2 separate regions of the Homo sapiens genome follow, and region 1 is linked to region 2. Evidence: fine-mapped expression QTL. A gene starts in region 2. The other region holds a variant in brackets. All regions are shown on one strand. Distances are from middle to middle. Region 1 overlaps DPY19L3 (dpy-19 like C-mannosyltransferase 3). Region 2 holds the start of DPY19L3-DT (DPY19L3 divergent transcript).

Region 1 (5,382 bases), 57 kb after region 2:
GGCTCATAATGTTGGAGTGGACCATAATTATTAGTATCTACTAAAAGTTTTGAGTAATAACTGCCAATTTTAAAAAACTAAGTATATCTACCAATCTACTGAAAGAAAAAAATCAGGAGTATGAAGGCTTTTTAAAAACTTGTAAGAATATCTACCCATCAAGCTGCTGGGGGGGTTTGCATTGACTCTTCGTGTTAAACTGAAAGAAAATTAAGTGTAAGAAGTTGAAGCTGCTGTCATTTGTGAAAACTTAATGAAGCTCACGAGGAAGCCCTTTTTCTGTAGTTACCTTGCCAATTAATGTGCTGGTGAACTGTGATTCACAGCCACGAGAGAGCTGTCATTAAAATGAGTCCAGAGCAGTTGAGAGGTTTTATGATCATTAAGAATGAAACAACATTGAACCATGAAAATATTTCATTGAACATAAACTATTTTACTATCCTTGAGAAGTGTTCTTTTTCATACCTAACCCAAGATAAAATTTAGCCCTGTGAAAATAGATGGAAATTATTCTGGACAGTGTGATTTAATATCATTCCAGACATAGCAAGTGTCAACAGGACTCTGGACTGCATACAAAGCAGGAAGTTCAGTGGGCCTGCAGTATCTTCCTGAAAATGTCTGCCATGCTCTGTGTGAATCTATGAGCCATCTCTGGAGGCTGATTGGGTATATGATCATAGATAAAAGATTTTAGAGCATCTTCATCTGCCAGATAGGGATATTAGGACTTTATTAGAGGAAAAGCACTACATGAAAGTAATTAAAGAATCATAGTCCAGTCATGTCACTTAACAAGGGGGATATGTTCTGAGAAATGCATATTAGGCGATTTTATCATTGTGCGAATATCATACAGTATACTTACACAAACATAGATAGTATGGCCTACTACACACCTAGGTTATGTGGTATAACCTACTGCATCTAGGCTGCAAACCTGGACAGCAAGTTACTATGTTTAATACTGTAGGCAGTTGTAACACAATGGTAAGTATTTGTGTAACTAAATATATCTAAACATAGAATAGGTACAGTAAAAATATAAAGGCCAGGTATGGTGGGCCTGTAATCCCAGTGCTTTGGGAGGTTGAGAAGGATTGCTTAAGGCTAGGAGTTCTAGACCAGCCTGGGCAACATAGCAAGACCGCATCTCTACGGAAAAAAAAAAGAAAAAGAAAAATTAGCCAGGCACGATGGTGCAAACCTGTAGTGCTAACAAGTCGGGAGGCTAAGGCGGGAGGATCACTTGAGCCCAGGCGTTTGAGGTTTCAGTGAACTATAATTGCACCATTGCACTCTACCCTGGGTAACAGAGTGAGACCCTATCTCTATTTTTAAAAAATACTGTAATAAAAGATTAAACATTGTATACCTATATAGGGCAGTTTTCATAAATGGAGCTTGCAGGACTGGAAGTTTTTCTGTGTGAGCCTGTGAGTGAATGTGAAGGCCTAGGATGTTACCATACACTATTGTAGACTTTATAAACACTGTGCACTTAGGCTACAGTAAATCTATTTAAAAAACAAAGTGATTGTGCTATGACCTTATAATGGCTATGATGTCACTAGGCAATAGGAATTTTTCAGCTCCATTATAATCTTACGAATCCACTGTGGTATGTGCGATCTGTTGTTGGCCAAAATGTTATGTGGCACGTGACTGTCTAAATGTGAATTAACTTTTAAATAAGGGCCTTTTGTCAGTGCCAAGTATTTAAAGTATTTCTACCTTTTTAGTACTAGGAAGGATGATACTATGACTTGTTTTGTTTTGTTTTGTTTTGTTTTGTTTTGTTTTGTTTTGAAATGCATCTCGCTCTTGCCTGGGCTGGAGTGCAGTGGTGCAATCTCGGCTCACTGCAACCTCTGCCTTCCGGGTTCAGGCAATTCTCCTGCCTCAGCCTCCTAAGTAGCTGGGATTACAGGCATGCACAACCACCCCTAGCTAATTTTTGTATTTTTAGTAGAAACAGGGTTTCACCATGTTGGCCAGGCTGGTGTTGAACTCCTGACCTCAAGTGATCTGCCTGCCTCAGCCTCCCAAAATGTTGGGATGACAGGCATGAGCCACTGCACCCTGCCAGATACTATGACTTTTATGTAGACATCTGCATTAGTGTGAGGGGTACATCTGAAAGGGGCATGGTGTTCCCTGCCTCAGCCTCCCAAAGTGTTGGGATGACAGGCATGAGCCACTGCACCCTGCCAGATACTATGACTTTTATGTAGACATCTGCATTAGTGTGAGGGGTACATCTGAAAGGGGCATGGTGTTCTGTGTTCATGGAATTAATCAGAGCCTTCCAGCTTGGCTGGGCTATGGGGGAGGTACTGCAGACTTCTCTTAGGTATCTAGAGAGGATAAGAGCAGATACTCCCCTTGTCTGTTTTATTTTTATTTACTTTTCACACCTTGCCCTGTTGATGGATATTCTTATTTGGAGTATCCTTTTTGTACCAATATGGAAACCAGTGTTTGGGTTGTAATATTTACTTTTAAGTAAAGATTCCAATTGTGAATTACCAATGGTGAGAACTGCCTTAGAGTATCCTTTTAATTTTCGTATGTATTTATGGTAGGAAAAAAAGGATTTCTGGGAAATAAAAAAAGTCTCTAGTTACATAGAGAAGCATCGTATGTGCCCAGTTCTATTGGGT[A/G]TGTATGAAGGGATCAGTAGACCTTCATGAAAGTTTCATCTTTAACTAGTAGCCTTTACTGTTGTTTTCTTTTCCCCTCGACAACAAATTGTGCAACATCTAAAGTCACTGATCAGTCTTAACATCACTGAAGTGGAGACAGCCAGGCAGTGTGTGCTTCCCGGTGTAATGTGATGTGGAATAGAGCCGTCCTGTTTTCTGTGGAAATATGTTTCAAGTCCCTCAGTGGATGCCTGAAACCTCGGATGGTTTCACACCCTTTCTATACTATGTTTTTTTCCTATACATATATCCCTGTGATAAAGTTTAATTTATAAATTAATCATGGTAAGAGAATAACAATAATAATAAAATACAACAATTATAGCAACATGCCAGCATCACTTCTCTTGCACTTTGGGGCCTTAGTTATGTAAGATAAGGGCTGTTTGAACACAAACAATACAGGGACATTTAAATGTATCTTACTTTATTAGTAGTTTAGTAGCTGAATGTATCTGCTTGTCTGTCTCGGGTAGGTGGGTAGACTATACAGCGTGGAAACACAGGACCAAGGGATGATGATCTGAGTCTCAGGTGGGACAGACAGGGATGGAGAGATTTCATCATGCAACACAGAATAGCATGTAATTCAAAACTATGAATGGTTTATTTCTGGAATTTTCAATTTAATATTTTCGGACAGCAGTTTCCTCAATAACAAACCACTGAAAGTGAATCCACCGATAAGAGGGGACTACTGTGCATCATAACCCCGTGAAGTGTTCTTGCCAAAAAAATGAACTTGTGTCTGATAAACCTCTAGATCTAATTACAAGTTTACAAGAAGCATGAAACGTATAACCACCACTGTGAGCCACACCTGGGAGACGGGAACAGCTTCAGGACATATGTTCTCTATTCTTCCACAAACAAATGGCCTGTTTTTTAAAAAAAGGAGATACTTTTATAGATCAAAAGATATTTAAAGATATATATTAGTGAAATGCAACATGCAGTTCTTAGATCCTGATTCAGAGAAACCTGAAAAAAGCAATTGATGCAAACAGGGAAAATAGAACATGAACTAGGTATTAGATGATGTTAAGGAATTATTGTTACTTTTATTGGGTGTAATAATTTTAATGTAGCCGTATTTGGTAAAAGTCATCTTTTGGATATCAGGAGGTATTGGTAGGTTAAAAATGTGATTTTTGAGGGGTCATAAAGGAACTGAATTCCAAGTTAATGGATGTGTGTTTTGCTTTTGCTTATTTGTAAAAATTTGAAAAATACTCATAATAACTGGTAAAACATCTTTTAAAAATCTCTTTCAATTTCAGCAATTCCAAAAAATTTGAGTTTTTTTTTTTGCATTCTCTTTTAATTTAAAGAATTGAAGCACTTTAAATTTTTACTTCAAAGCTGCTGTGAAATTTCAGTTTTTCTCATTATTAATGCATTTATATTGTTACACTTTAGCCTCATAAATTCAAAATTGATCAATGCGAATTCATTTCATCTTATGGAAATAATCAATTTCTGAATACATAAAGGCATACATTTCTTGTATCTTCTTCTTTTACAAAGATCTAACTAAAATTATGTTTCCAGCTTAAATTTTGTATGTTGCTGTTTTACTCAGTGATTCTACAAATCAACAATCCGTGGGTAAAATGGAAAAAGGCACAGTTGACCTGAAACCAGAAACTGCCTACAACTTAATACATACCATTCTGTTTGGATTCTTGGCATTGAGTACAATGAGGTATTTTTGTCTTACCTGTTTGTTTACTTTTTATTTGATCACTCTTGATGTTACTTAGCAATATAATTTGGAAAGTGACAATCATCTTCATTAATGATCATGGTTCCCATAAAATCATCCTTATATCCTATCTTCTCTCAGTATAAAATACTCAACATCAGTTTTTACAATTAATTACAAACACGCCTCTATGTTTTACTCAAAGCATAGTCTTGAAAAGGCAGTGGAGTTAAACAACGAACCCTTCGGCAAATGGCATCTGCATAGTTTTAAGTAAGATTTTGCCGTCATAGACTGTAAAGCTGCCTTTATAGGTGTCTCAGAATCCAGGTTTATATACAACTAGTACTTCTGACTTGCGCCTGTGTCTGTTCTTGCAGAATGAAGTACCTCTGGACGTCACACATGTGTGTGTTCGCATCATTCGGCCTATGTAGCCCTGAAATATGGGAGTTACTTCTGAAGTCAGTCCATCTTTATAACCCAAAGAGGGTCAGTGTCATCCCTTTTTCCATCTCCTTTTATGACTTGCAGTATTTCTTTCATACCACTTCTTTTTTTGTTTTTCAGTAGCTGTGAGATAAAATGGATACTGAAATTGAAGCTGAAAATACATAATTGATATATTAAGATTTTATAGGGAATTATTTTAAAATAATTTTATTTTAAAAAATTACTTTTTTCTCAGACTATAAGTTAGATATGTTCATTATACAGAATTTGGAAATACAAAAAAAAGCACAAAAGGGGAATTAAAATTACCAATAATCCCCTTGTCCGGAATTATAACTGTTGTTATTATAATGTATTTTCATAAAGATAATTATTTATATATGTATGACAATTTTTCAGTAGCCTATAAATGCAGTTTTGAATTGTTCTACTCCATAAATTCACTAGGTGGCAATATAGTAGAAGCTGCAGATATCTTACAAATGATTAGAATCCTAGTATCGACTCAGTTATTCT
Region 2 (5,382 bases):
GAGGAGGAGGAAGAACAGGAGGAAGAGGAAGAAGAAGGAAGAGGAAGAAAGAAGAAAAGAAGAAAGAAGAGAAAGAGAAGGGAGGAGGGAGGAGGAGTAGCTGCATGAAACTTAAAAGGAATGCCTGAAAGGTAGACAGAGGAAACACGCACAGTCTGTTGTCACAGAAGGCAGGAATGATGGAGAGTGTTTATACTAAGTCAAACAATTGAAAAATGAACACTGGGCTGGGCGCAGTGGAGGACACCTGTAATCCCAGCACTTTGGGAGGCCAAGGCAGGTGGATGACTTGAGATCAGAAGTTTGAGACCAGCCTGGCCAACATGGTGAAGCTCTGTCTCTACTAAACATACAAAAATTAACCGGGCGTGGTGGCCAGCACGTGATGCCAGCTACTCAGGAGGCTGAGACAGGAGAATCGTTTCAATCCGGGAGACGGAGGTTGCAGTGAGCCGAAATCACCCCACTGCACACCAGCCTGGGTGACAAAGTTAGACTCTACCTCAAAAAGTTAAAATAAATAAAATTTTTAAAATGGACATCATGTATCAGACAGGAAAAAGCCAGTAAGACGGAAGAACTCACACCCTCGGGATCCCAAGACAAGATACTTCCATGGGATGGATGTAATGAACAGTGTTAAAAGATTTCTGGTGCAGTGCTTCTCAAAGTGTGATGTACACATAAATGACCTGGGGGTCATATTAAAATGCAGATTTTGGCTACACAGGTCTTGGGTAGGACCTGAGACCTGGCTTTTCTCAGAAGACCCCAGGTGATGCCCATGCTGCACAGCCCACAGACCACATGTTGAGTAACAAGGTTCTGCTGTGGTTCCCAAACTTTTCCGAGCACAGAATTATCTGGAAAACTTCTGTACTAGTCCATACAGCTATACATACTGCTATAAAGGATACTGCTACAAAGAATGCCCAAGACTGGGTAATTTATAAAGGAAAGAAGTTTAATTGACTCACAGTTCAGCATGGCTGGGGAAGCCTCAGAAAACTTACAAACATGGCAGAAGGCAAAGGGGGAAGCAAGGCACTTTCCTCACAAGGAGGCAGGAAGAAGTGCTGAGCGAAGAGGCAAGATCCCCTTATAAAACCATCACATCTTGTGAGAACTCACTATCATGAGAACAGCATGGGGGAAGCTGCCTCCATAATTCAATTACCTCCACCTGGTCTCTCCCTTGAAAGGTGGGGATTATGGGAATTACAATTCAAGATGAGATTTGGGTGTGGACATAAAGCCTAACCATATCAACTTCTTAAAGATTAGTGGTCCCCTAGCCCTACAGATTCTAAATTGAGTAGGCGTGGGGTAGGGCCTGATAACATGCATTTCTTAACAACCTCCCAAGTGATGGTGACAGTGACGCTGCAGATCCCCAGACCACACTTTTGAGATGCACAGCACAACTATTTGTGGCCCTGGCAGAGACAACCAGGGAGACTATTTAGGCTTCTAAACCTACTGCAAACCGGAAGTCTTGCTATATACCACCACTGCAGTCACAGTCCATTACAGGAGCCCATTCCTTTTATAGTACCTCCCTGGCTCCGGGCTCATATGGCCAGAAGTGTGAGCAAGGACCTACACTCATTATCCATCACCTCCATGGTTACTTTATCAGAACCAAAGACTCATTCTTAATTGGCTTATTCTCCCCAAGACTTACTCTCAGCAGTAGGTCCTACTTAGGAAAAGTCTCAAAGCTTCATCTTGCTTAGGAATGTCTTTTCATAGTATTAAAAAAAGCAGCTACTGCTGAATTCTACTTTCTTTTTAACTAAGCGATGATATTTCACAATGGTCACATTTCCCCCAGAGTGAAACAACTTGAGAGAAAAAAAAAAACCTATAAAATAAGAGGGAAATCCTATTTAAGGGGAACTCAATTCACCTATGTATTCATGAAACAGACACATGCACATAAAGGCATCTTAACGTGAAAAATAAACATACAGTCCTTGCCCTCAAGCCAGGCGACAGAAAAGCTACCAACAACCAGGCTGAAACAAGACAAATGCCATCTGAAAAAACAGCTGACATTTGTTTCTATCAAAGCCATCCAGCAGATACCTCAACATCTTTCCACAGAACGTGTGCTCTTTACTAACAACCGACACACAAAGGAGGACGATCTCCAACAGAGGTGACTAGGAAAGGCTTCCTGGATGGCGTAATTTAGTGTTGGAGTCAGACCAATGAGCCGCCTTTTCACGGGTGGAGGTCCCAGATGGCCATCCCTTTAACAAAAATCAATTAACATGTAAATTATGTACTGACAAATACAACGTTTGATGGGCCCGCTGCAGTGGCTAAAGCCTGTAATCCCAACATTTTGAGAAGCTGAGGCAGGAGGCCTGCTTGAACTCAGGAGTTTTAGACCAGACTGGTCAACACAACGAGACCCCATCACTATAAAAATTAAAATGAATCTCAGCTACTCAGGAGGCTGAGGAAGCAGGGTCACTTGGGCACAGGGGACTAAGGTTGCAGTGAGCTACGATCACACCACTGCACTCCAGCCTGGACGACAAAGCAAGACCCCCATCTCTACGAAAAATTTAAAAATTAGCTGGGCATAGTAGTGCGAGCCTGTGGTCCCAGCTACTCCGGAGGCTGAGGCGGGAGGATCGCTTGCGCCCAGGAGGCCGAGGTTGCAGTGAGCCGTGATAGCACCACTGCACTCCAGCCTGGGCGACAGACTGAGAGCCTCACCTGTAAAAAATAATTTTAAAAAAGGTTCCACCTAGTGTTTTCCGTGGTGTGACTAAGAAAAGTATCTAGAAATAAAGCACAGTCAGTACCTGCTCTCAAAAAACGGCTGCCAATCTAGTTTGGAGACAGAAAAATATACCCGACTGAGAACACAGAGGAGCCTGTTTTCGGAAGAGGGGCGTCTTTGGAGACGCAAAATCCTCTCCGCGGGACGCTGACGGGCAGTCGGTAAAGGACTTCCAAGCACTGGTCAGTGACAATCGGGCGCTGGGGCTTTGCCAAGGCCCGGAGGCGGCGCGCCAAACCGGGCAATGCGGGAAGCGGGGCAGGCCCGAGTGGCCCTACTGCTGCCGTCCCTACTGATCCCTGCGCATCCGCCACAGAGCAGGGAACGGCAGAAAGGAGGAAGGAGGGGGAGTTCCGTAAATCAGGCCCTCAGGGGCTCCCAGGCCCGCACCCCTCTCAAGCCCCGGGGACCACCGCGGAGCCGCTGCTCCGGGCCGTGCGGCTCGAGGCGAACCTGCCTCAGAGCCGCCGGGCCCTCCTATCCCGAGCCGTATCTCTAGCTCCGGCCTGAGGTGGCCGGCGACTGCGTGCGCAAACACAAGATCCGCACCCCACTCCCCGCCACTGCAGCTCCGCGGCCGCGCTCAGAGTCTCCGGAACAGACCGGACTCAATGCGGACCAGGCAAGCGGAAGTGTGCCGCTTCCTTCCGGCCAGCGCAGCACGAGACGAGGCGGGGAACCGCGGGAGGAGGCGGGGCCTAGTGTTGACGAACAGCTCCCGGGGCCTATGGGCGCGGGGGCAGCCGCCCGGCCTCTCCGGCGCGCCCCCTCCCCGGGGCTGTTGACGCCCCCCAGCCCCTCATTTCCACAAAGCTCCGCGGCGGTTCTGCCCTCCTTGTACCCGCGGCGCGCTGCGGCCCGTGGCGCGGCCCCGTTCCCGCCTAGCCCCGTCGGCCTCCTTCCCCTCCCGGAGCCGCGCGTGAGGACGGCTGAGGCCGCAGGTCTGTGGCGGCGCGCCGGGACGCGCGGGCGAGGGTCTACCGAGAGGGCGGGCGGGCGCCGGCGGAACCCTCGGCTACAGCCCCGAGCCCCTGGGGCCGCCCCTCCCCGCCGCGTGGCGCAGTCGGGGGGCGCGGCCGCGGCGTCGGGGCGTCGGGAGGGGCGGAGCGCGGGAGTGTCTGCCGGGACGCGGGCCGGGCTGGGCTCCGGAAGGACCAAGTTTGCGGAGCGGCTTCTGCTCGTCGGCCGTGCGGCGAGGCAGGGCCTGGGCTGCGACCCCGGCGGCCGCTCGCGGTCTTGGGAGAGCTGGGGCGCGTGCCTGAACTTCCCGGCTGCCCCTGTCCTTGGAGACCTACCTGATGGGGACGCCAGGTGTGCAGGGGCGTGGCGCGTAGGTAAGCGGACCCGGTGCCTGCCTCGTCCAGGGGATGCTCACTAGAGCGCTAGGCTTTTTTATTTTTATTTTTTAGAGACAGGGGTCTCGCTGTCTCGCCCAGGCTGGAGTGCAGTGGCGTTATCACGGCTCACTGCAACCTCGAACTCTTGGGCTCAAGCGATTCTCCCACCTCAGCCTCTGGAGTAGCTGGGACCACAGGCATGCACCACCGAGCCTGGCTATTTTATTGTATAGATAGGGTCTCGCTCTGTTCCCCAGGCTGGTCTCAAACTCATGGTCTGAAGTCATCCTCCTGCCTCAACCTCCCAAAGCGCTGGGATTACATGAGCCGCCTCGCCCGGCTAGCGCTAGTCGTCCTTATTAATAAAGAATCGCTTCTGGTCCCTTTTCAGTTGTTTACAATGGCATTCCTTTTGATCTGATGGAGGAACTTTTTTTCTTAGTTCATGGGACTGTTGCAGTGCCTGACACATAATTGGTACTTAAATATGTGTTGGTTTTCTGCCTTAACATATTAGAATATATGAATTGTTTAAAAAAGTCCTCTCACACTTAGGGAGGACTCTAGGATGAGGTCACATGGGGGATAAGCCCATCTGTGGCTGTAGGACTTTGTTAAACACTCCTCTTCTCCCTCTCTGTTCCAGATTCTCCATTTCCAGTGCTTGAAAGCACAGTACTTAAATCTGGCTTCCTGCTTTTTTTTTTTTTTTTGGTATGAATGAATACATGAATTGTATAATGTTAGTTGGTTTGTTCTGTAGAGCAAGTTACCCTTAGGAATTAATAAACTGTGGAAACAATCATGTCAGGCTACTAGTCACATTTAAGAAATAATTAGTAAGAGGCTGTTCATTATTCAGAGGAGTGAAGCAAGATGTTCTGGAGGACTGGAACCCGCTTACTCACTGCCACCACTCCCCCGCCTCCCACTTGCTGCTGCCAAACCAGGCTCCTGCTCCCCCCCACCCATTACTCCCACCGACGCTCCCTGGGATAGCAGCTGCCCTGATTGGCACACCCCCGCAGTCATCACCACTGAGGCGTATTCCTGAAGCTGCCAGTGTGAATTGTTTTATAGAACACTGGTGTTAAAATTCAGGTACCTGAGACAAAACAATATTTTAATTCTTCAAAATCCGGTTGTCAACACATTTACTATGGAGTATCTCCCACGTGGCCACTTCTGTGGGAGGTACTGAAGACCTACTACCGCCTATGGAAGTAGAAAATAATATACAACTGTGTA

What was found. PIP is the estimated chance that this variant, and not a neighbour inherited with it, causes the effect.
Region 1: its variant is fine-mapped to the expression of DPY19L3-DT in whole blood (INTERVAL, PIP 0.95).

Annotation. Positions count from the first base shown.
Region 1 is chr19:32,459,076-32,464,457 of GRCh38, forward strand. DPY19L3 (dpy-19 like C-mannosyltransferase 3) reads left to right here. Exons shown (of 19, transcript NM_001172774.2): 13 at 4,291-4,413; 14 at 4,794-4,905. Among named protein-coding and RNA genes, the nearest start is that of DPY19L3, 56 kb to the left of the region's middle. The variant A/G (reference allele first, on the strand shown) is at 2,667.
Region 2 is chr19:32,402,172-32,407,553 of GRCh38, forward strand. DPY19L3-DT (DPY19L3 divergent transcript) reads right to left here and starts at 3,368. Exons shown (of 3, transcript NR_046201.1): 1 at 2,820-3,368. It overlaps DPY19L3 (dpy-19 like C-mannosyltransferase 3), which reads left to right and starts at 3,599. Exons shown (of 19, transcript NM_001172774.2): 1 at 3,599-3,738. RefSeq lists silencers at 3,151-3,200, 3,231-3,980.